Regions from separate parts of the Homo sapiens genome. Here regions 1, 2, 3, 4 and 5 are each linked to region 6. Evidence: fine-mapped expression QTL. A gene starts in region 6. Each other region holds a variant in brackets. All regions are shown on one strand. Distances are between the middles of the regions. Region 1 has its middle 22 kb from the start of GNPTAB. Region 2 overlaps DRAM1 (DNA damage regulated autophagy modulator 1). Region 3 has its middle 5.5 kb from the start of GNPTAB. Region 4 overlaps GNPTAB (N-acetylglucosamine-1-phosphate transferase subunits alpha and beta). Region 5 has its middle 36 kb from the start of DRAM1-AS1. Region 6 holds the start of DRAM1 (DNA damage regulated autophagy modulator 1).

The links. PIP is the estimated chance that this variant, and not a neighbour inherited with it, causes the effect.
Region 1: its variant is fine-mapped to the expression of DRAM1 in whole blood (TOPMed, PIP above 0.99).
Region 2: its variant is fine-mapped to the expression of DRAM1 in blood mononuclear cells (TOPMed, PIP above 0.99). The same link has a PIP of 0.9 or more in whole blood.
Region 3: its variant is fine-mapped to the expression of DRAM1 in whole blood (TOPMed, PIP above 0.99).
Region 4: its variant is fine-mapped to the expression of DRAM1 in blood mononuclear cells (TOPMed, PIP above 0.99).
Region 5: its variant is fine-mapped to the expression of DRAM1 in tibial artery (GTEx, PIP 0.98). The same link has a PIP of 0.9 or more in aorta and tibial nerve.

What each region holds. Positions count from the first base shown.
Region 1 is chr12:101,850,878-101,855,026 of GRCh38, forward strand. No RefSeq gene overlaps it. Among named protein-coding and RNA genes, the nearest start is that of GNPTAB, 22 kb to the left of the region's middle. RefSeq lists an enhancer at 3,906-4,149 and a cis regulatory region at 3,915-4,132. The variant C/G (reference allele first, on the strand shown) is at 1,771.
Region 2 is chr12:101,916,241-101,920,240 of GRCh38, forward strand. It overlaps DRAM1 (DNA damage regulated autophagy modulator 1), which reads left to right. Exons shown (of 7, transcript NM_018370.3): 6 at 3,869-3,961. Among named protein-coding and RNA genes, the nearest start is that of DRAM1, 41 kb to the left of the region's middle. The variant A/C (reference allele first, on the strand shown) is at 1,684.
Region 3 is chr12:101,834,457-101,838,456 of GRCh38, forward strand. It overlaps the pseudogene RNA5SP369. Among named protein-coding and RNA genes, the nearest start is that of GNPTAB, 5.5 kb to the left of the region's middle. The variant T/C (reference allele first, on the strand shown) is at 1,547.
Region 4 is chr12:101,794,957-101,799,105 of GRCh38, forward strand. It overlaps GNPTAB (N-acetylglucosamine-1-phosphate transferase subunits alpha and beta), which reads right to left. Exons shown (of 21, transcript NM_024312.5): 2 at 1,721-1,806. It also overlaps the pseudogene RNU6-172P. Among named protein-coding and RNA genes, the nearest start is that of GNPTAB, 34 kb to the right of the region's middle. The variant C/T (reference allele first, on the strand shown) is at 2,390.
Region 5 is chr12:101,926,099-101,930,181 of GRCh38, forward strand. No RefSeq gene overlaps it. Among named protein-coding and RNA genes, the nearest start is that of DRAM1-AS1, 36 kb to the right of the region's middle. The variant C/G (reference allele first, on the strand shown) is at 2,287.
Region 6 is chr12:101,875,521-101,879,669 of GRCh38, forward strand. DRAM1 (DNA damage regulated autophagy modulator 1) reads left to right here and starts at 2,060. Exons shown (of 7, transcript NM_018370.3): 1 at 2,060-2,400. The coding sequence starts at 2,270. RefSeq lists enhancers at 1,464-2,246, 2,037-2,086, 2,247-3,028, 2,667-2,756, 2,897-2,946 and silencers at 1,697-1,856, 2,107-2,446.

The DNA of each region.
Region 1 (4,149 bases), 25 kb before region 6:
TTCACTCTGAGTCTCTGGAAATCGATTTCTTGTACCTGTAGTCTTATATTCTCTAGAATGTCACATAAATGGAATCATACAGTGAATAGCGTTTGTGCCTGGCTTAGCGTAATGCTTTTATGATACATCCATGTTGTTTCATGTATCGGTAGTTATTTAATCTTTACTGCTGAGTAGTTTCCAGGGTCTGTTTGTACTGATGCAGGGCAGGCGAGCCCAAAAATTGGGTCATAGCCTGGGAGGATTCTTGGCCTCACCCAGGAAAGAATTCAAGGGTGAGCTGGTGGTGTTAAATAGCAACTTTTCTTGAACTGGCAGTGTACAGCAGCAGCAAAGGGACTGCTTGTCGTAGAGCAGGGCCACCCCATAGGCAGTGTGCCCAGAGTAGCAGCTCAGAGGCAGTTCCACAGTCATATTTATATCCACCTTTAATTACTTGCAAATTAAGGGGCAGATTACACAGAAACTTCTCTTTTTTTTCTTCCTCGAGACTGAGTCTAGCTCTGTTGCCCAGGCTGAAGTGCAGTGGCGCTGGCTGGTCCCAGCTACTCAGGAGACTGAGGCAGGAGAATGGCATGAACCCGGGAGGCGGAGCTTGCAGTGAGCGGAGATCCTACCACTGCACTCCAGCCTGGGTGACAGAGCCAGACTCCGTCTCAAAAAAAAAAAAAAAAGAGATTATTCTGAACTTTGGATTGATCTTTTATACATTTCTGAAAATGCAAACAAATAATTAGTTATGTGAAAAAAATTTCCAATTAAGATGTCAGTATTTTATGAAAAACCAGAAGTTATTAGATAAAGGCAGTAAGTGAATCTTTACAACATACTGGATCATGCACAATGTCTTTTTGTCTTAAACTGGAAATAAATCTATATCTGCTAGAAATAATGTAGCCTAAAAAATGCAAATTTGGCCAGGCATGGAGGCTCACACCTGTAATCCCAGCACTTTGTGAGGCCAAGGCAGGTGGATCACCTGAGGTCAGGCGTTCGAGACTAGCCTGGCCAACGCAGTGAAACCCCGTTTCTACTAAAAATACAAAAATTAGCTGGGCGTGGTGGCGTGCTCCTGTAATCCCAGCTACTAGGGAGGCTGAGGCAGGAGAATTGCTTGAACATGGGAGGCAGAGGTTGCAGTGAGCTGAGATCGTACCACTGCACTGCAACCTGGGTTACAGAGCAAGACTCCATCTCAAAAAACAAAAAAAAAGAAAAAAAAGAAAATCTAAAACCAATTAAAACCTTATTTTGAAGAATGACAAATCTAGATCTATTTTTAAAATTTGTGTTTTTGTTTTTGTGGCTTGTTTTGAGACAGGGTCTCACTCTGTCCCCCAGGCTGGGGTGCAGTGGTGTGATCTCAGCTCACTGGAACCTCCGCCTCATAAGCTCCAGTGATCCTCCCATCTCAGCCTCCTAAATAGCTCCTAAATAGCCGTGCTTGGCTAATTTCTTGGTTTGTGTGTGTGTGTGTGTGTGTGTGTGTGTTTGTTTGTTTGTTTTTCTAGAGATGGGGTCTCACCATGTCACCCAGGCTGGTCTGGAACTCTTGGGCTCAAGTGATCTGCCCACCTGGACTTCCCAAAGTGCTGGGTTTATAGGCATGAGCCACCACACCCAGCCCTGAAAAAATGTTTGAAACTCATATATGTTAAGTGTGTGATGTACCTATTATTAACTTAAACACTAAAAGACAAAGACAAACAACACATGATAATGCTTCAGGACTCCAAATCTCAGTGTCAGCTCAGTCCGTGTTGAATAGTC[C/G]TTGAATGCCTCTGGGTATTCCTCTTTCCCCAGTGCACAGCTACCTCAGTAAATGACCACTGGTCTTTTTGATAAAGGACTGAAAATCATTACAGAATATACTCAAGATGATGTTTCAGGGTTCTTTATTCTGGGGACCTGGCCACCTCTTCAGTCCACCAGTACCAGGTCTGAAAACTGACTTAGGTTCAACATCAGGGCAAGAGATCCTGATTTCCTTTTGGGTGACCACCCCGATTTTGTCAAATGCAGTTTATTAACCATTATACACCTATTGCTAAGCCCAGGGACTGACACATAGTAAGTACTCAAAAATATTTGTTGAATGAATGAATGACACTTGGAATTTCAGAGACATAAAAGTTTAGGGTGGTATATAAAACCTCAATCAATCAGTGATGATTGAAGTGTTTATTCTTTCATTAAGTATCCTACTTGACCTACAGGGAAAACATAGAGACCTACAGGGAAACATCAAAAACATAGCCTCTGGAATCAATCAGTGTGACTTGATACCAGGTCTCCTCTTATCATTTCTAAGTCTCAGTTTCCTCATGTGTAAAATGGGTATAATAATAACTTACAAGGCTGCTGTGTGGATCAAATGAGATAATGCACATAAAGATCTCAGCATGGTGCCTGATACATAGCAAGTGTTATAAGGTTAAAATTTTATTTATTCATTTTGTTATTTTATTATTATTAGTTTTTGAGACAGTGTTCCTCTGTCACCCAGGCTGAAGTGCAGTGGCGTGATCTCAGCTCACTGCAACCTCTGCCTCCCAGGTTCAAGTGATTCTCCTGCCTCAGCCTCCTGAGTAGCTGGGATCACAGGCCTGCACCCCTACGCCCAGCTCATTTTTTTTTTTTTTTTTTGTTTAGACAGAGTTTCGCTCTTTGTTGCCCAGGCTGGAGTGCAGTGGTGCGATCTCTGCTCACTGCAACCTCTGTCTCCCGGGTTCAGGCAATTCTCCTCTCTCAGCCTCCCAAGTAGCTGGGATTACAGGCTCCCCACCACCACGCCCAGCTCATTTTTGTATTTTTAGTAGAGGCGGGGTTTCGCCATGCTGGCCAGGCTGGTCTCGAACTCCTGACCTCAGGTGATCCGCCCGCCTTGGCCTCCCAAAGTGCTAGGATTACAGGTAGGAGCCATCACGTCCAGCCAATTTTTTTTGTATTTTTAGTAGAGACAGGTTTTGCCATGTTGGCCCAGCTGGTCTCGAACTCCTGGCCTCAAGTGATCCACCTGCCTCAGCTTCCCAAAATACTGGGATTATAGGTGTGAGCCACCATGCTCAGCATAAGGTTAAAAATTTAAATACCGCAACTCCCATAGGCCACAACTGTTACTCCTTTGTCTCTGTTTATAATTGATCTAAACATTCTCAGTAAACTCCATTTGGTTTGAGGGAGGAGGAAGGCAGAGAAGTAGGATGCCGCAGGAGTTAAACTTGTCAAATAAAGGTCCGTTAGTCTCTGCAAGATGGTTAAGATTATCTCTTGCTGAGTAAATATTAAATAATCTAATATTTAACTCCACATCAGAGCCATTTCATCCTTCTTTCTCTTACTTTTCAAGGTGTCAGGGTTCCATGGGCAAGCCATGTGCACTCTTGGCACATTTACCCATAAATGAGTCTCTCCATAGGCTTTGGAATCCTTGTAGGCTTCAAGGTTTTTGCTCAACTTAGTATTGATACCCTGGTTATGCTCAGCCACTGGGACACTGGGGACATTTGCTGCTAGAGTGTGCAGTATGACTATTGGTCTGTCCTCTTGGTTGGCGTATATTAGTCTGTTCTCGCACTGCTAGTAAAGACATACCTGAGACTGGGTAATTTATAAAGAAAAGAGGTTTAGTTGACTCAGTTCCGCATGGCTGGGAGGCCTCACTATCATGGCGGTAGACGAGTGAGGAGCAAAGGCATGTCTTTCACAGTGGCAGGCAAGAGAGCTTGTGCAGGGAAACTGCCCTTTATAAAACCATCAGATCTTGAGAGACTTATTCACTACCACAGGAATAGTATGGGTGAAAATGCCCTATGATTCAATTATCTCCACCTGTCCCTGCCCTTGACACCTGGGGATTATTACAATTCAAGGTGAGATTTGGGTGAGGACACAGCCAAACCATATCAGTTGTGGTAGGGCCCATTGATCTACAAATGTGACTTGACCTCACTTTTGCATCCCTTCAAGGCTCAGCCACTGCCTCCCTCAGACATGTGGTAGAGGTTATCAGGTCCCTGTCTACCCACTTCCTCATGGTGACCCAATGGCAGGTCACACTCAATTACCTTTCACTTCCCCAAAAAGGATGCTGAAAAGGGGTCTTTTGACTCTCTTCCAAGTCATCAAGGGAGGTCTGCACTGTTGAAT
Region 2 (4,000 bases), 41 kb after region 6:
TGTGGTTCATGCCTGTAATCCCAGCACTTTGGGAGGCTGAGGCAGGAGGATTGCTTGAGTCCAGGAGATGAAGACCAGTCAGGGTAACACAGTAAGATCCTGCCTCTACAAAAATTAGCCAGACGTTGTGGCATGCGCCTGTAGTCCCAGCTACTTGGGAAGCTGAGGTGGAAGGATCACTTGCACTCCGGTGGGCCTAGACTTCTGGTGGGACTGGGAGTCGTCAGAGTGTAGGGTAGAGTTGTTAGAGTATGGGGTAGACCAGGACATTTTGGACCAAGCATCAGAACACATGGAACCAAATGTTTGACATTGAGATCAACCCATCCTGTTAGATACCTGTAGTAGTGGTTCATCTAGACGCCTTATAGGAGAATCAAGGATGCCCCAGGAAAGAAGAGAGTTAGTGAGAGACAGAGGATTCTTTCCCCCAAGGATCAGGTGGAAGAATACCTCCAGCAAAGGAGAAGTAAAGGGATCATGGACCAGAGAGAAGAACTAGACTTGTGCTGTATGGTAGACCTCATTGATGAGTCCCTACCACATGCAAGACTGTGAAAGATTATAGAGGGCAGGGTGGCCATGGGATAGAGGATCCTGAGGGATTTTATAGTTCAGAGGGGCAAACAGCCAGTTGTCAATGGCTAAATGTAATACTTTGAAGAATAAAAAAATGCTGAACTGGACTTCAGACAACACATTGTGGAAATGCAGAAGCAATAGCAATTAATCCTAACGATGGAATGAGAGGAGATACGATCCCAGAGACTAAAGGACATTTTTCAAAGGCAAGGGAAATGGCTAACTATGGCATATGCAGCTGAATAGCCTTTAGGAATGAAGTCCCTCAATTTGGGCAATAAGGGAGTCAGTGATGTTTGTCAAAAAGTAGTTTCAGTAAAACGCCGAGGTTAGAAGCCAATGGCAAGAAGTTAAATAGTGAGAGGGATGGTTCTTTCATTCAGCTATCAACCAAATGTTTATTGAGTCCTGTTCTGGACTGGAGGTAAGAGGTAAAGGAGGAACACCAGGGTGGCTAGAGGAGACAGCAGGATTTCCCAATATGGAGAACTCTGGCAGGTAATGGAAGCCTGCCAAGACAAGAGAGAGACAGAAGATGGTGAGGAAGAGAATGATCCAGACAGGAGATCAAAAAGTGCTTCTTGGCCGGGTGCGGTGGCTCAGGCCTGTAATTCCAACACTTTGGGAGGCCAAGGCGGGTGGATCACTTGAGGCTAGAGTTCAAAACTAGCCTGGCCAATATGGCGAAACCCTGTCTGTACTAAAAAAAAAAAAAATTTTTGGTGTAGTGGCACACACCTGTAGTCCCAGCTACTTGGGAGGCTGAGGCAGGAGAATTGCTTGTACCCAGGAGTTGGAGAGCTGGAGGCTGCAATGAGCCGAGATCATGCCAATGCACTCCAGCCTGTGCAACAAGAGTGAGACTCCATCTCAAAAAAAAAAAAAAAAGCCTTCTTTAAAATCTAACCTTAAAATGGTCAAATTCGTCAATAGGTTAGACCTAGGCAAAAGGCAGGTTTTTTTCTTTCTTATATATGGGGAATTAGCCCCATCATGCGAAGGGGGTTCAGTTCCTCTTTCCGTTGGAGAGAACCTCTTTCTGAAAGTGAGACCGCATAGCGGAGCAGTTCAGGTGTACTTTACTTTTCAGCCACTCGGGGG[A/C]GACCTTCTATCACAAACCCGCTGCTGGGAAGGGCTTATCGAAGTATATTCCCAGGCAGTTAAAAATCTGTTATATTCCACTTTCTATCTTAAAAATGTGAAAAGCACATGGTTTTCTATTCACTCCATAAATGACTGCGCCACTCTTGCATTTCCTTCTGTTCCTAATATCAAAGGATGTAAAAAAATTTCCCTTTACATTAATTCACTGAATAATCATTTAGGTACTGCCTCAAACTTCTGTGTAGTGCTTTACAGCTTTCACAGCACATTTATATGCAGTGACTTACTTGGTAGGGGGAGGTGAGAATTATAATGTCACTGTCTCATTTCACATAGCAAGGATATTAGGGCTTTGCCTGCATTCAGGACTCTTGGTTCCATGTACTTTCACTAATATCATGCTTAAGAAATTCCCCCCAAAGTTCTGCCTTTATTTTTAGAAGCCATCTTCCTTGTTCAGGGATGATACGGGATGTGGCAGGTCCCCTGGTACTGGTACCAGAAGGAGGAAGCCTCTGTTCTGTATCTCCTACTGTAGGCTGGTCAGGTCCTCCTCGGTGTGACCTAGCATGAAAACAGTGGGTGAGTGTGACCATGACAAGGAGAGTGAAGAGTGACGCTCGGAGGGCTTGGTGTGCCTCCACTCGATCTGTCTGGATGAAAACAGGATCAAAGAAAACAACTGTCACCATGGAGCTGCCCTGTGATCCAGCACATTTACTTACCCTTGTAGCCTACAGCAGTTTGGGGTAGAAGAGCAGTGGGCTCAGCCCTCAACAGCACATGCCAAGGGCAGAGCAGCCCATGTATGCAGCTTCAGAAGGCATGGGGGTGTAGGGAGTTAGGGGTAGTTGCTCATTTCAGCAGAGCAGAAAGTGACGTAGGAAATCAGAGGGGGCACACTGACAGTCCCCAGGCCTCATTTGGCATGTGAGCTAACATCAGAATGCAGACATGCATATTTGACTCAGAGTTTTATTTATTTTTATTTTATTATTATTATTATTATTTTTGAGACAGAGTCTTGCTCTGTCACCCAGGTTGGAGTAGAGTGACGCAATCATGGTTCACTGCAACCTCTATCCCCCAGGCTCAAGTGATCCTCCCAGTTCAGCCTCCCAAGTAGCTGGGACTGCAGGCGCAGGCCACCCCACCCAGCTAATTTTTTTTTGTCTCGTTATGTTGCCCAGGCTGGTCTCAAACTCCTGGGCTCAAGTGATCCTCCTGCCTCAGCCTTCCAAAGTGCTGAGATTACAGGTGTGAGCCATTGCAACAGAGTTTTAAAATTAGTTTCCAGCACTGAAAAATCAGGAGATATCACACACAGACACATCCACAGACACACAGACACACACACGCACACACACACACACACACACGGTTTTGTTTTTTTAAACCCCTTTGAAAGCAACACTAGTGTATTATTTTCCCATGGAATTGAGCTGATGAGGCGTGGGCTCCCTAACTTCCCTCTCTTTTCACAACCATCAGTTTTATTTATTATTGTTAATTTTCTGGCCTCCATAGGCAACTGAGTTTGGAACATCTGATTGAAGCCATTCTCCTTGGCTTCCATTCTCCCATTCTTGCCTCCAAGAAGATATACAGTTAACATGTGGATGTCCATTATTAGCATTTTCTTTGTAGCTGTATTTACCTTGGGATGTTAAGCAGAACTATTTCCTGAATGATCATTTCTATATAAACAGGGAAACACGAAACCTAGGGGACTAGTTGGCCAAGTTCATCTAGATGTGTACACACTTTCTTTGGAACAACTGCGAGAGTGCTTGTTAAGCATAGCCTTACACTTAGGGATTCTCAGCAGAGCGAGACCAAGTCATGCCTTGTATGGAAATTTCTTTCTTCTGTTGAGTCCAAATTTGCTTCCCAGTCTCAGCCATTTTGCAGTCCTTAGTCTACCTTTTGAAGTGACAAACTAAATCTTAAAACAAGAGTTTGTGCGAGCCAGAAAGAACTTTGGAATACCTGCCTTCGCATTCTCAGTGGGCAGGTGCCCTGACACTTAGTAACGTGGTTGTGCTTACCGTATATCCTCAAAGTTCTGACTTATGCTCACTGGACAGCTTTTTCCTTTGGTTGAAACTCCTCATTGTATTTCAGTATGTACATTAAAGTGAGTCTTTTTCGGCTAAATTCTGTTTCTTTATTATTGCATTAGGATTATGTATATCACGTAGTGAGTGCGATCTGTGAATGGACAGTGGCCTTTGGTTTTATTTTCTACTTCCTAACTTTCATCCAAGATTTCCAGGTAGGTGTTTATCAATTCAAATGTTTTAAATTGCGGACA
Region 3 (4,000 bases), 41 kb before region 6:
CAAGAAAGACATGGTCCCTGCTTTTGTGGGATTTACACTCTGGAGGGGCATATATATATTGGATTAGTATTGTGAGGGGCACTAACCTAGCCTGGGAGGTCAGGGATGGCTTCCTGGAGGAGGTGATACTAAAGATTGAGCTGGAGGACTCAAGATGTGGGGTGGGAAGGGAACTATGTTCCAGGCAAGGCTGGCCACATGGAAGGCCTAATCTAAGGCAAGAAGGGCTGGAGATGCAATGAAATGGAACTAGAGAGTCTGGCAGGATCTTAAAGGCCATAGCAAGAATGAAAGACCTTATCCTAAAGACAATGAAGAATTTTAATAAAGTCTAACAAATGACACAATCAGATAATGAATTTCAAGAGTTATCATAACTGTGGCGTGGAAAATGTATTGGAGGGGGCCTGAGGAGTTGAAATGAGACCAGTGATAGTAGAGTTGCCAGATAAAATACCCAGTTAAATGTGAATTTCAGATAAGCAGCCACATACATTTAGCATAAGCAAATCCCATGCAATACTTAAAAAGCTTTATTTACTTGAAATTCACATATAACTGTGTGTCCTGTATTTTTTATTTTATTTTATTTTTTTGAGATGGAGTTTCGCTCTTACTGCCCAGGCCAGATTGCAATGACGTGATCTTGGCTCACTGTAACCTCTGCCTTTTGGGTTCAAGTGATTCTCATGCCTCAGCCTCCTGAGTAGCTCGTATTACAGGTGCCCACCACCACACTCAGCTAATTTTTTGTATTTTTAGTAGAGACAGGGTTTCACCATGTTGGCCAGGCTGGTCTTGAACTCCTGACCTCAGGTGATCCACCCGCCTCAGCCTCCTAAAGTGTTGGGATTACAGACGTGAGCCACCGTGCCCAGCTGTGTCCTGTATTTTTATTTGCTGCAGATGTTCTGAGCCACTCTTGACCAGGCATGGGAATTCCTGTCCCTTGGCCCAAGCCAGTGCCTAGAAAGTGTATCTGAGTCAGGGATGAAGTATTAGCCTATATATCCCCTTGTCCATAGATGTAAAACAACATTCTGCAGTTAATTTCATTAATATTAAAGCTGATCCTCATCTGCCTGTATCTTGCATGATCTTCTCAATTGGTTCAAAACTCAGGAGACAATGAGAATGTTTTTATGTATTGGACCCTAAAACATTTACCATCTTTGAGTCTCCCTTTGCTTAGCCAGGGTGAAAACTGAACATCCAAAGAAAACAATCTTGCTCAATCAGGGACCTCTTGTCCCAGGCCTACACATATTTTGTGTATAGAAATAGTGTGCTTCAAAAGCCTCACTGTGAGGTCATAAGAAAATTAAAGAGCTTTCAGTAGCTGATTAAAGTTAAAATACCTCCTGTTAAGTGTATATTTAATTAAGTCCTTCCTTTATTAATGATAAGAAGATAAAATGTTCATGTTGTAAATGCTTTCCTTTTAAGCTCTAGGCTTGAAAATCTTGCTTGTTCCCAGGAAACACATTTTGATTTTATTCCCTCCCTTAGTGTATATTCATAGACATGTAAGTTGTAAGTCATCCTA[T/C]TCCTTTCTTTAGTCTAAGAAAGCCAGACAGCCATAAAAAAGAATGAAATTATGTCCTTTGCAGCAACATGAATGGAGCTGGGTGCTATTATCCTAAGTGAACTAACTCAGAAACAGAAAATCAAATGCTGCATGTTCTCATTTATAAGTGGGAGCTAAACAACGGGTACACATGGGCATAAAAATGGCAATATTAATAATTAAAACCAGGGACTCCAAAAAAGGTGACAGTTGGGGGGTGATGAGATTTGAAAAATTACCTGTCAGGTACAGTGTTCACTATTTGGGTAATGGGTACACTAGAAGCTCAATCTTTACTAGTATTCAGTATACCCATTTAACAAACATGCATGTGTATCCCTTCAATCTGGAATAAAATTAAATACATTTTAAAAAGAAAGTGAGGATGGCTTTTAATTTTTGCAAACTAGTGCAAACAAAATTATTAAGTAATTTAACTGTTTCTGATAGAATTTCCTTTTCTTTTTTTTTTTTTTCTTTTTTTTTTTGAGATGGAGTCTCACTCTGATGCCCAGGCAGGAGTGCTTTGGCATGGTCTCTGCTCATTGCAACCTCCGCCTCCTTGGTTCAAGTGACTCTCCTGCCTCAGCTTCCCAAGTGTCTGGGATTACAAGCACCTGCCACCATGCCTGGCTAATTTTTGTATTTTTAGTAGAAATGGGGTTTCACCATGTTGGCCAGGCTGGTCTCAAACTTCTGGCTTCAGGTAATCCGCCTGCCTCGGCCTCCCAAAGTGCTGGGATTACAGGCATGAGCCACCGCAGCCAGCCTCTGACAGAATTTCAAGAGCCAAATCTATGGCCATACCACCCTGAAGGCGCCCAATTTCATCTGATCTCCTTAAAGCTAAGCAGGTTTGGGCCTGGTTAGTACTTGGATGGAAGAATTTCAAGAGCCAAAACATAACATGGCTCACTGTTAACTTTTTTGTGAGTTCAAACACATCACATATATATAAAATACCTAATTTTCACATAAATGTAACCATACTTTGTCCTTTTTTTTTTTTTTTTTTTTTTTTTGAGATGAAGCCTCGCCCTGTTACCCAGGCTGGAGTGCAATGGCACAATCTTGGCTCACTGCAACCTCTACCTCCCACGTTCAAGCAATTCTCCTGCCTCAGCCTCCCAAGTAGCTGAGATTACAGGAATGTGCCACCACGCCCAGTTAATTTAGTATTTTTAGTAGAAATGGGGTTTTACCATGTTAGCCAGGCTGGTCTCAAACTCTCGACCTCAGATGATCCGCCCACCTTGGCCTCCCAAAATCCTAGGATTACAGGCATAAGCCACCGCACCAGGCCCAACCATACTTTATTCTGTTTATGTGATATTTACTTGTGGGTTTTTTTGTACATTTCATCCACTGGAATATAAGCAACATAAAGGCAAGAGACTTACCCATCTTATCCAGAAATGTATCCCTAATCTTAGCATTGTGTCTTGCCAATAGAAACTAATTGATAAAAATTTATTACATGAATTAATATATTTTGCACTGATAAAAGTACCAACCATTGGCTGAGGTGGCTCACACCTGTAATGCCTGCACTTTGGTAGGCCAAGGAGGGTGGATCACTTGAGCCCAGGAGTTCGAAACCAGCCTGGCCAACATGGCGAAACCACATTTCTACTAAAAATACAAAAATTAGCCAGGTGTGATGGTGTATGCTTGTAATCTCAGCTATGTGGGAGACTGAAGCAGGAGAATTGCTTGAGCCTGGGAGGCAGAGATTGCAGCGAGCCGAGATTGCGCCACTGCACTCCAGCCTGGGCGACAGAGAGGGACTCTGTTTCAAAAAAAAAAAAGTTCCAATCACAGAGTTGTATAAAGTTTTGATGAATTGAATTACAGTGTGTTATTAAAGGATATAGAGAATAACCCTATGTTTTGAGGTAGAGCTCATTTGGAAAACTTTCTAGCTTGGGATCATTTTTATATAGTGGAATATACTAATGTCAACTTGGTTTTAAAACCTCTGTTATTTCTATCATTATTGACTCTGGTTGTTTGTTTGCTTCATTTTGTCTACTACTTCTTTGTATCTTTTCTCCCTTTGCCTAAATAACCTTTTCTTTTTTTAGAGACAGGGTCTCTCTGTCACCCTGGCTGGAGTGCAGTGATACCATCTTGGCTTACTGCAGCCTCGACCTCCTGGGCTCAAGCGATCCTCCCACTGCAGCCCCTGGAGTAGCTGGGATTACAGGTGTGCACCAATATGCCTGGCTAATTTTTGTATTTTTTGTAGAGATGGGTTTTCGCCATGTTGTCCAGGCTGGTCTTGAACTCCTGAGCTCAGGCAATCCACCCATCTCGGCCTCCCAGAGTGCTGGGATTACAGGCATGAGCCATTGTGCCCAGCCTAAATAATCTTTTCAAAAACCAGCTTCTGCCAGGCACGGTGGCTCACAATGGAATCTGGAAAAGAAGGCT
Region 4 (4,149 bases), 81 kb before region 6:
TGAAGCTTCTTCGGGGCAGGGATCTATGCATCTGTGCACCATCTGCACGTGGCACAGCATAAGGCACAAATCAATAAATATCTGATTTTAAAATGTTAATCAATTTAGAACTTTCCTTAGGGAAATTAACTTGTTAAAGTGAAAATTATATTTCATTAAAAATCCTTTAATGCAGTAGTTTTCACAGTGGGGGCACCAGACCAGCAACTTTGGTATTACCAGGAAGTTTGGTAGAAGTGCAAATTCTCAGAACCCCTCTGAAACCTATACGCAGAAACTCTGGGCTGGGAAGTAACTGTTATTTTCTTAAGCCCTCCACTGCAAGCTAAAGTTTCAGAACTGCTATATTAAGGAATGGTCCTCAAACTTTTACTGTTTGGTCCCTTAAAATTAAAAAATTAGTATGGACCCCAAAGTGCTTTAGTTTATAAGGTTATAATTATCCACATTTGCCATATTTGAAAATAAAACTGAAACATTTTAAAAATACTTAATTCATTTTAAAATGAGAATAGGCCGAGAGCGGTGATTCATGCCTGTAACCTCAGCACTTTGGAAGGCCGAGGCGGGTGGATCACCTGAGGTCAGGAGTTTGAGACCAGCCTGGACAACATGACGAAATTCCGTCTCTACTAAAAATACAAAAATTAGCTGTGCGTGGTGGTGCATGCCTGTAATCCCAGCTACTTGGGAGGCTGAGGCAGGAGAATCGCTTGAATCCAGGAGGCAGAGGTTGCAGTGAGCCGAAATCGTGCCACTGCGCTCCAGCCTGGGCAAGAGTGCAACTCTGTCTCCAAAAAAAAATAAAAATAAAAATAAAATAAAATAAAATAAACACCTTTTATAATGAAATTACTACATTTTCTAAAATAAACCAAAAAAATAGTGAGAAGACAGAAACAAAAACCAGAAAGGACTTGTGTGATTCATTTTATCTGCAAAAAGGGAAGGAGGGTGTTGAAAAAAATTGTTTCCATTCTGAGGTCTGTCTTGTGAAGAGGAAAAAAAAAATCCCCAAAGACAAGAAATGGTGAAGACTGCGTTCCAGAATGGCGGCACTAAGAAGCTTGGCCTTCCAAGGGAAAGACCCACACTAATGAGGTATGAGGCTATTTGCTCCTCCCTCATAGGTAAGCAGCAAGAGTGACCAATGGAGTGGGGTTCAGCCCCAGTGGTTTACTGGGGAGTGGTCCCATTTCACAGGACGCTGTCAACAGAATTCCGGCCAGGGCTCAGAAACCGCTGTGTAGTAGCCACCTGGTTTCCTCATCCTACAGGGGGATGAAATTCCCTTTACCTCACAGACCTGGGGAGACAGAAAATGCAATCATGCAATTTAAGGTACCCAATAAACTACAAGGTGGGATTACTCTCTGTGAATCAGATTTTTCACCCACAAAATGTGGTGAACACACTTTTCTTCAGATGGACATATTTTCTTTCCTTATTTTAAAAAAATATCTTACGGAATACTTCATGAATTGGTGTGTCACCCTTGCACAGGGGCCACACTAATCTTCTCTGTATCGTTCCAGTTTTTTTTTCCTTTTTTTTAGTATATGTGCTGCTAAAGTGAACACATCAGATGGGCATACTCCTGAGTAAATTAAACCATATCTATAACTCAGAAAGACCCCTTAAACTGTCATATTTACAGGATGGCTATTTCATGACTTACGATTTAGGTCCAAATAATAGATTTCTCCAAAATAGATCTTACCGATTCTGAAAGGACTTTCCAGCAATATTGTCTCTATAGGAATCAAACAAAACATGGTATTGATCTCGGCTCCATTCCAGAACCACCTAGAACAAAGAAAAAGAAACGTTTTCTTCGCATCAAAGACTAAGAGTATATAACTTTCATTTCATTTTAATTTCATTAGAATTGCTAGAGAAATGGGTAAAGAAATCAAAATTCATGTATTCACTTACTGCCTACCACATACATCGTGTTAGATCCAGGTGAATAAGCTACAGTTCCTGAAAAGGACAAACTAAAAGACTTAGTGTCTCACCATGCTTGGAATGGGGTAGCGGAATCAAAGAGGTTTAAAAGGATGTGGTATTTGAAATGGGTCTTGAAGAATGAGTTCACCAGGTAGGGAAAAAAGGACAGGGCCAGCCAGTTGGAAGAGCATGCTTGTAGGCTGAGAAGCAGCAAGGGCAAATTGTTTCAGGGCAACTGTGTGGCTGGCTTTGTCCAGAAGACAGGTAGATAACTGTTGAGAAATGGGTCTAGGAAAGAAAGCTGGGCCCTAAGCGTGACGTGCCTTCTGTGCCTTGGAAGCACTGAAGGATTTTAAGGCAGTTACAGAATCCGTCTAAAGTTTAGGAAAGACTCTTCTCAGAGCATTTACAGACACAAGCAGAAACAGAAGGGACAGGC[C/T]GGGCACGGTGGCTCACGCCTGTAATCCTAGCACTTTGGGAGGCTGAGGAGGGTGGATTCCCTGAGCTCAGGAGTTCGAGACCAGCCTGGGCAACACGGTGAAACCCCGTCTCTACTAAAATACAAAAAATTAGCTGGGCATGGCGGCATGCGCCTGCAGTCCCAGCTACTCGGGAAGTGAGACAGGAGAATTGCTTGAACCTGGGAGGCATAGGTTGCAGTGAGCCAAGATCGCGCCACTGCACTCCAGCCTGGGCAACAGAGCGAGACTTCATCTCAAAAAACCAAAAAACCAAGAAACATAAGGGACTGACAAGATATGGGAGGATAAGGACCTTATTACCTGTGAGGTTTCAGCTAACGACCTTGTTAAACATTTCAGGAGAAAATGGAAAGCTTTAGATAGAAGTTCCCTCATGTTTGCACCCTAAATCTATAAACCTACCCACACATACATCCCATTTTCTTTTTCATTCCTCTTACCACAGAGGAAGTGTCCCCCCACCTTGCAGACATCCAATCTCTATTTGCTCTGGATCTCATCAACTTGTGTGTTCTCAAGACCTTGCCTCTCTTTTCCTTTCAGTAGGATTATTCCCATTGGCACGCAAACATGTTCCCGTACCTTGGGAACACCTTCCCTTCACTCCATATCCATTCCAGTGAGTCCCTCTACCCCACATTTTCTGTCCCTTTCAAGGTCATCTCCTGCTTTCCCACTCACCCTTCAGCTCACTCCAGTATCACTTATGTTTTCACCACTTTAGTGGCCTTACCAAGGCCCCCACATTGTCAAACTCAACGGCATTTTCCTCATCTCTTACTCAAGTATTCATAGCAGTTGCCCAGTTCCTCTTTGTGGAAATGTTTTCTTGGTTTTCCCTCCTGTCGCCCTGGTGGCTCCTTTTCCATCTCCTTTGCCAGCTCATTCCCTTCTATCTAATCTTTCTGTGTGTCCTTTCCTTCTACTCTACATGCCCTCCTTCCTGACCAGGCTTCCTCCAGCATCCTATTCCACTGCCCCTAAGAAGTGGCCCTGCTACATTCAGATGGGCTGTGGGGCCCAGGCATTTAGAATTCATTCCAACTGCAGAAAGGAAAGGGAAAGACATGCCCCACCTTTAAGGAGACATCATGGAAGCTGCACCTACCACTTCTGTTTTCATTATCCAGAACTTACACAAATCTATTATATTATAAAAAGTTAAAATGTATCAAAACTTATACAAACACAGACTGTACATGGTACCGTTTGCAATTGAGAGAGGTAAACAAACATAAAAATGCAGCAATAAATCATAACCGAATAAAATCAACTGTAGTATATACTGTACTAAAATAATTTTGTACCCATCTCCTGTTACTATTGCAGCGAGCTCACATGTTGCGAGTATCTGTAGTGACACTAATTATCTCCACGTGAGCAGTTTGTCTCTCTAGTAAACTGCATGTTGCGGTAAAAAGTGATCTCTCATGTTTCTTACGTATTTTTCATATTTAGTGCAATACCGTAAACTGCGAAGAACATCATGGGACTCTTAGAAAGTGCCACTAGTGCCGATGGAAGTGCTCCCAAGAAGCAGAGGAAAGTCATGTCATTACAAGAAAAAGTTGAATGGTTTGACACGTACCATAGATTGAGGTCTGCAGTGGTGGTTGCTGGCCATTTCAAGACAAAAGAATTTAGCTAAGAATCATTGTTTTTTAAAAAAAAAGGCAATGAAAAATTATGAAGCTGTCACTCCCAGCTAGAAAACTGC
Region 5 (4,083 bases), 51 kb after region 6:
ACAATCTGCCTTGTGGTTTAAGACGGGGTGGCGTGGGGTGCCTGGAAAGCCTGTGGTTTAGGTAGTTCCTCAGCAAGGAGCACTGCTCTGTGCCCCACCATCCTCAAGGCCAGTTCCACCTCTGGACGACTCAGTTACATGAGCTGATAAAGTCTCTAACTTCAATAAACTGGAGTTAGACTTCAGATGATTTTACCTGTAAGAGTCCTGACTGATAATGGATACACAAGAGTTCCCCTAATATGAAAATACAGTAAACAACTATCATCTAGAGTCATTTTTATTTCATTTTTTTCTTTTGCATTTTTTTTTCAGTACAGACTTGCCTTCACAGGAAAGATCATTTTTATATAAGTGGATTCAGCTGCCCCCACTCACAACCCTCACCCCCTGAACCATTTATTTCAAAAAATTTGAGTAATATTTTCACAATTCAAAACTCAAAACAATATGAAAAGGTATACTGTGAAAAGCCTTTTTGCTTTTCCCTACCTGCATTTACTCAATTCACTCTCTCCTTGCAGATATCCACTTTTTTTTTTTTTTTTTTTTTTTTAACGACAGAGCCTTGCTCTGTCGCCCAGGCTGAAGTGGAGTAGCATGATCTCAGCTCACTGCAACCTATGCCTCCTGGGTTCAAGCAGTTCTCCCTGCCTCAGCTTCCCAAGTAGCTGGTATTACAGGTGCCCACCACCACACCCAGCTAACTTTTGTATTTTAGTTGAGACAGGGTTTCACCATGTTGGTCAACTCCTGACCTCAAGTGATCCGCCTGCCTTGGCCTCCCAAAGTGCTGAGATTACAGGTGTGAGCCACTGTGCTCAGCCTAGGTATCCACTTTTTATCAGATTTTTATGAAAATACAAGCCAAAACAAATATTTTAACGTTTTCCTTTTCATTTTCACCCCAAATTAGTATACTGTAAGAACAGTTTTGAGCCTTACTTTTTTGACATAGCAATGTATCTTGGAGATGTTTCCTTTATCAATACATAGAGATCTCCCTCATTTTTAAGGTTAATTTGCTTTGTTTTATACCTTACAGTATTCCATTGTATGGCTGTGCCATCATTTATTTAGCAAGTTCCCTATCTGATGAGCAATTATGTGGTTTCCAAATTTTTGCAATTACAAGTAGATGACCTTGTACATACATCATATCACACATGTGCAAGGAAATCTCTAGGACAAATTCCAGTGAGTGGGATGTTGGAAACTTCATCTGTTATTTTGCAAATGTTATCTTGCCTTTAGAACTTTTTTACTTGAATATTTTTGTTAGGAACCTCTTTTTCTTTTTTGTTTCTTTCTTTTTTTTTTTTTTTAAAGGCTGGTCAAGTGCAGCAGTGAGAGTGGAGAAGGAAGAAAAAAATCTGTAACTGGGCTGGGCATGGTGGCTCACGCGTGTGATCCCAACATTTTGGGAGGCTGAGGCGGGTAGATCATTTGAGTCTAGGAGTTCAAGACCAGCCTAAGTAACATAGCAAGACCCCATCTCTACAAAAAAATTTAAAAAATTAGCCAAGAATGGTGGTGCAAGCTGTGGTCTCAGCTACTCAGGAGGCAAGAGGGGGGTATCGCTTGAGCCTGGGGAGGCAGAGGTTGCAGTGAGCAGAGATCGTGCCACTGCACTCCAATCTAGGCTATAGAACGAGACTTTGTCTCAAAGAAAACTAAACTAAAATAAATAAATCTGTAACTGGTTGCGATCAATTAGTTGTAAACACCACTGCACTCGGACAAGCCAGGAATCTTTGTGATTACACACATTTTCTTCTAACCTGAGGATGCTGAATATAAGTTCATGTTTCCTTGGTGACTCAGTCATCCATGACTGTAGATCAGGTGCAAATGTGGATTTTGCAGTAGATGGTGTGGGACAGAGGCCTGCCAACTTGGTCACGGGTCTTCTACACACACCTCTTCTGTTCCCTCTTTTATGTAACCACCTACTGCAGGGAATGCAAGGCTGTGTGCTCCTCTTTCTGCTGACAGCAGAACTCACCTATCTTCTGCCTCCTACCCCAACCCGGACATGTCTTCTTTTTATGGGCAAGAGTGTCTCCAGTTCACTTGGGTTTTTCATTATGATCTTGCAAACTTTTGCAATTAGTTGCAAAAGTTTTGTCAATGCCTCTTCCAGTTTGTACTCACTTCCTTTTTGGTATCTCGCTGAAGTCCTGTTACTTGTCTTACACTTCTTCCCTATCTTTTGAGAGGATGTATTTTTGTTGTTGTTGTTGTTGTTTTGTTTGTTTGTTTTAAATTTTGAGATGGAGTCTCGCT[C/G]TGTCACCAGGCTAAAGTGCAGTGGTGCGAGCTTGGCTCACTGCAACTTCGCCTCTCGGGTTCAAGTGATTCTCCTGCCTGAGCCTCCCGAGTAGCTGGGACGACAGGCGTGTGCCACCACGCCCAGCTAAGCTTTATATTTTTAGTAGAGACGGGGTTTCATCATGTTGGCTAGGATGGTCTTGATCTCTTGACCTCATGGTCCGCCCACTTCGGCCTCCCAAAGTGCTAGGATTACAGGCGTGAGCGACCATGCCCAGCTGGAGACGATTGTATTTTTACAGACATCAACAATCAAGCACAATATTCTCTCCTCTCTGGCAAAGTGATCCAGGACAGAACACCAGGGGCAACCCACAGACCTTTTGATCCTCCCTGACCTTGTAGCTTGGTGGTTACTGCAGAATGACTCAATGAGTGGGGGACACCAGCAATTCAGTAGTCAGAGAGAGAGAGAGAGAGAGAGAGGAAAGAAACTTTACCTTTGAGAAACTTAAAAATTGACTTGGAAATAATCAGCTTTATGTTTGCCTAAATGTATCCTTTATGTCATTTGGAAAAAGAAAATATTATTTGGAATTACCTATGGGGAGGCATCATAATTTTTTCAGTACCAGGTATTCAGGGACTTTCACCTAAAAACTAAGGATATTTCTTCATCTGCTTACATGATCACTTATGTTCTGTTAATACTGATTATTTCCTATATCACAGACACTGTAAGGAGGGCGTTTCCTCATAGTTAACCCTATTTTATTCATGAGGAAATTAAGATGTAGCGAGGTTGTCACCAGATACCAAATGATGGGGCTAGAACCAAACCCAGGACTGTGACTCCTACGGTTAACCTTTGCCATGCTGACAGTGTGATTCCCAGTCACTGCCTTAGGAGTATGAATTAATTTGTCAGCTTTTCTAGGGTTATATAATATAAGGCCTTGAGAAATGAAACCCTTAAGCTGGCAAGTTTAGAAAAATGGGTGAAATGTTTGGATTGCCACTTCAAAACGGCAGGTCCTGGTTGAAGTCTGGGCATCTAAGAATTGTGGGGGTGGGAGCAGGTGATAGGAATCAGGAGTAGAAACAGTAAGAGAGGGTTTGTATGATACACCTGGTCTTTGGTGGGAATGGGGATCAGTTCTTGTATGAGTCAGTTCTCACGCTGCTAATAAAGACGTACCAGAGACTGGGTAATTTATAAAGAAAAGAGCTTTAATTGGCTTACAGTTTCACATGGCTAGGGAGGCCTCAGGAAACTTATAATCACGGCGAAAGGGGAAGCAAACACATCCTTCTTCACATGGTGGCAGGAGAGAGAATGAGAGCCGAGCAAAGGGGGGGATGCCCCTTATAAAACCCCCACATCTCGTGTGAACTCAGTATCACAAGAACAGTATGGGGGAAACCGCCCTCATGATTCAATTATCTCCACCTGGGCCCCCCTTGACACGTGGGGATTATTACAATTCAAGATGAGATTTTAGGTGGGGACATAGCCAAGCCATATCAGTTCTCCTGCAACCACCACAGCCTGAGGAGGAGCACTGAAGAGGCCAAGGATTCCACTGCGCAGTGAGACAGGGTGCAGCAGGCTTTCAGTACGATTCAGGCTCTGGTGGCTGTGAGGTGTGGGTTCTTATGACTCTCAACTCCTGGTATCTTTTGCTTCTGGATGGTGCGGTAAGAGGGACTGGGGGTTGTCGTCCGTCTGTCTGGACTTCCCAAAGGAGAAGTCATGGTGAGGCCCAGGGAAAGGACCATCTAGGCTATCACAGGGCTGGGTAAAAGAAGTCCTCA
Region 6 (4,149 bases):
CTATTTTGTTTTGTATGGCGGGCACTCACTCCACGGCCACAGTGATCTCTTGAAATACTAGTCTGCCCATGTTCTTACTTTCTCCTTAATACCAAAAATAATCCAAGATTCTCAGCAGGACTCTGGTGACTTTGCCTCTTTGTTTCTCTCTCCATTTGCTGCCTCACACTTATTTAAGTGCTTTCATAGTCCCAGGGAAGCAAGCTCTGTGTATGCATTTCCTCCAGTTGTTTTCTGGGCCTGGAATGCTAATCTTATTTTTCTTTGCCTGGTTAGTAATTACTTCCTTTTGAAAACTCTGATGTCATCTGTCAGAAAACCTCCGTGGTCCTTCCTCTGAGCCCAGGCCCCTGGCCCTCAGCTCTGGGCATGTCTCTACTTTTTAAAATCCTCTCCTTTCCATTTAATAAACCACATAACATAATTTTGTTTTTATTTATTTATATTTTTGAGACAGAGTCTCGTTCTCTCACCCAGGCTGAAATGCAGTGGTGTGATCTCAGCTCACTGAGAAAACCTCCATTTCCCAGGTTCAAGCGATTCTCCTGCCTCAGCCTCCTGAGTAGCTGGGATTACAGGCGTGAGCCATGATGCCTGACTAATTTTTTGTATTTTTAGTAGAGATGGGGTTTCACCATGTTGGCCAGGCTGGTCTCGAACTCCTGACCTCAGGTGATCCACCCACCTTGGCCTCCCAAAGTGCTAGGATTACAGGCATGAGCCACCACGCCTGGCCTAATTTTGTTATTTTGATCTATGAGTGTCCTCGTCCTGAGGGTACTATTACTATTTCATCTTTGTAGCCTAGCATGGCGCCCATGAAATGTGTTTGTGGCTGAAAGGAACCTATCTTTGGTCACCAATGACCCAACAATTTTGGCCACATATGTTGGGCTCAGACTCCCTAAACTATCAAAATCATGTGCTTATATTATAAGTGCCTCCAGAACACAAATCCCTTTCACAGGGCTTGAAATGTATCAAGTCACTATTAATCATCTTAGGCCAAGGCTCCGAGTCTGGGCTACTCCAGAACCTGGAGGGGAGTTTTTTTTGTTTTTTTTTTGTTTGTTTGTTTTTTGAGACAAGGTCTTGCTCTGTCACCCAGGCCGAGTGAAGTGGTGTGATAAAGGCTCACTGCAGCCTCGACCCCCAAGGCTCAAGTGATCATCCCAACTCAGTCTCCCGAGTAACTGGAACCGGCTTTTTTTCTTTTTCATTTTTTTTTTTTTTTTTTGTAGAAGAGGGGTTTCGCTATGTTACCCAGGCTGATCTCTAGTTCTTGGGTTCAAGCGATCCTCCCAACTCGGCCTCCCAAAGTGGTGGCATTCCAGGGGTGATGGCTTTTGGATGCCTCCCAAAGTGATGGCTATTCACGGCGCCCGGCCTGGGAAATCTTATTTCCAGGAAATATTCTCCAGTTGCGCTCTCCTGGAAAGCAGCACAATGGGCCTCCCGGCTCCGTGGGCGCGCAGTCCCACCCGCCTGCCCCGCACCCCACCCGCGTACTCTCCACCCCACCCGTTCCCACCCTGTCTGGGTTTTCGGGTGTTCACCATTGAGGTGGGAGCCACATCTGCGCCCCGTGACCTGGCGAACCTCATTGAACACTTCTGCCCGACCCCCGCAGCAGCAGCGCGACCGGATGGCATGGGTGTCACCACGCGGTGGCCACTCTCACTGCTGCGAAGCGCCGGCGGCGGGACCTCGGAGGGGGCGCCCTCGGGGTGCGAGGCCCGGCACTCCGGAAATCCCCCGGGAGGGAGGGGTTGGGAGAAATAAATCCTTTTCTCCAGAGTTGCGCAAGAGCCAGCGCGGTAGGGCCAGAGTGGGAAGGCCAGAGCGGGCGTCCCCGCCAGTGACCCCACGCCGCCCGTCCGCGCCCAACCCGGCCTCCGCCGAGTGTCCAAACCAAAAGCGAAAGGAACCCGACCCCGCGTCCCCTCCGGCGGCTCCGTAGTCGCGTCCGCTTGGAGCTCGCCGGGCGCCTCCGACCCTGCCGGGCCGCTTTGTGACTTCACTCGTTTCGCAACAAGCCCGGGCAGCCCGCGCCCCACCCACTCTGGCCCGGCAGCCTCGCCGCCCGCAGCCTCGCTCCGCTCCTCGCGCTTCCCCTCCCTCCGGGGCTGGGCCTGCCCCGGCCGTCGCGGAGCCTCCCCTCCCACCGTCCGTGAGTGTACGCGCCCGGCCGCCGCCTCCAGGCAGCCCGGAGCAACCCGGCGCCCGGCCCCGCTGGGCGCAGCACTCCGTCGGCGGCGGCGGCGGCGCGATGCTGTGCTTCCTGAGGGGAATGGCTTTCGTCCCCTTCCTCTTGGTGACCTGGTCGTCAGCCGCCTTCATTATCTCCTACGTGGTCGCCGTGCTCTCCGGGCACGTCAACCCCTTCCTCCCGTATATCAGGTGAGTGGCAGGGTGGGCGTCAGGGCCCCAGGAGCAGGCACAGGGACCACAGGGAGCGCTGCCGACGGGGAGGGAAGGCGTCCGGACCCAGCTTGGGGCGTCGTGTGGTCAGGCAGAGGTGGGAGCAGGAGGAGAGGTGCTCCCGATAGCCTGGGATGTTTAGGGAGGCAGCGGGTGCGGCGCTGAGCACTTCTGCCTGTACCCGGAGCATGGAACAGGGTGGCAGCAAGGAGAGGTTCAGGATAGATGGTAGAGCTTTCATTCTGGGTATGGGACAGAATCTCAGCAGGACGTTCTTAGGCGATATTGAAACAAGATGGGTTCTGATAGATGACATATATTATACAAGAGGTAGATCCAGGTATATGCTAAACAGCCACTATTTTCACTTCTGCATCCCAACATCCCTTGAAGTGGATGTTTGGGCTTATTATTCCCGCAAGCGAGCGGTGGTGTAAAGTTGATGAAATATCATCAACGTGACACTGATGTCACACTAGTTAATGGTAGGAGCAGAATTCACACCCGGCCATGCAGAAAGCAACACTGTGCTGCCCCCAGGTCTCTGGGAGTCTGGCTTAAATTCTCTGGAGCTGCACCAGACACCTCTGGGCACTGTGACCCCAAAGTCCTCAACTTGTCAACAACTTGTGACATCTTTTGTGTTATTTTACCCATTCACTTTTCCTGTGCTTTGGCCTCTACCTTCCTGAGGGGCACTTCAGTGCCAGGGACAGTGGTCTGATCCTCCTATGTGGGTTCCAGCTCAGTGCCTTTCTCATAGTGGCAGGATTCTTTAAACGTTAGAACCATCCATCCTTATCTAAGTAGTGTGACCCCTCTGGACAGGCATTGGTTGGTGAACGGATGATAAGGTTGGTGACACCCAAGGTTTGTTACTGCTATGATAGAAAATGTAGGGCGTCTTCTTCCCTGCAGCCATTCTGTCTGGTGAGCAATGTTCTGTGTTTTTTTGTTTGTTTGTTTGTTTTTTTCCTTTTTTTGGGGGTGGGGGTGAGGAGTGTGGAGAAAGGGGAAACAAAGATCGAGCAAGAGGGGACTAGCATTTTTTAAAATTTTTTTTATTTTTTTGAGACAGAGTCTTGTTCTGTCGCCCAGGCTGGAGTGCAGTGACACAATCTCGGCTCACCGCAACCTCTGCCTCCCGGGTTCAAGCGATTCTCCTGCCTCAGCCTCCCAAGTAGCTGAGATTACAGGCGTGCACCACCACACCTGGCTTAATTTTTTTGTATTTTTAGTAGAGACAGGGTTTCACTATGTTGGTCAGGCTGGTCTCAAATTCCTGACCTCAAGTGATCCTCTTGCCTTGGCCTCCCAAAATGCTAGGATTACAGGTGTGAGCCAGTGTTCCCAGGGAACCAGCATTTACAAGATGCAGGGAATACAGCAATAGGTAGAATAGTGCAAATTTGCAGTAATGATGGTGGTTTTTGCCTATGAAAGGAGATGTTATGTATATCAAGATGTTCTCATCTGGCCTTTCGGTTTTTTCCATTTATTGTTATTATTTTTTATTTTCAGTAGAGACAAAGTCTCACTATATTGCCCAGGCTGGTCTTAAACTCCTGGGCTCAAGCATTCCCCTTGCTTTGGCCTCCCAGAGTGTTGGGATTACAGGCGTGAGCCACCACGCCTGGCCCTCCCATCTGGTATTATGCTTGGAAGAAACCTAGGCTTGGTTTCTCATGGCACATCTCAGGCCCAAGTGCCATCATCTTGCTTCTGAAG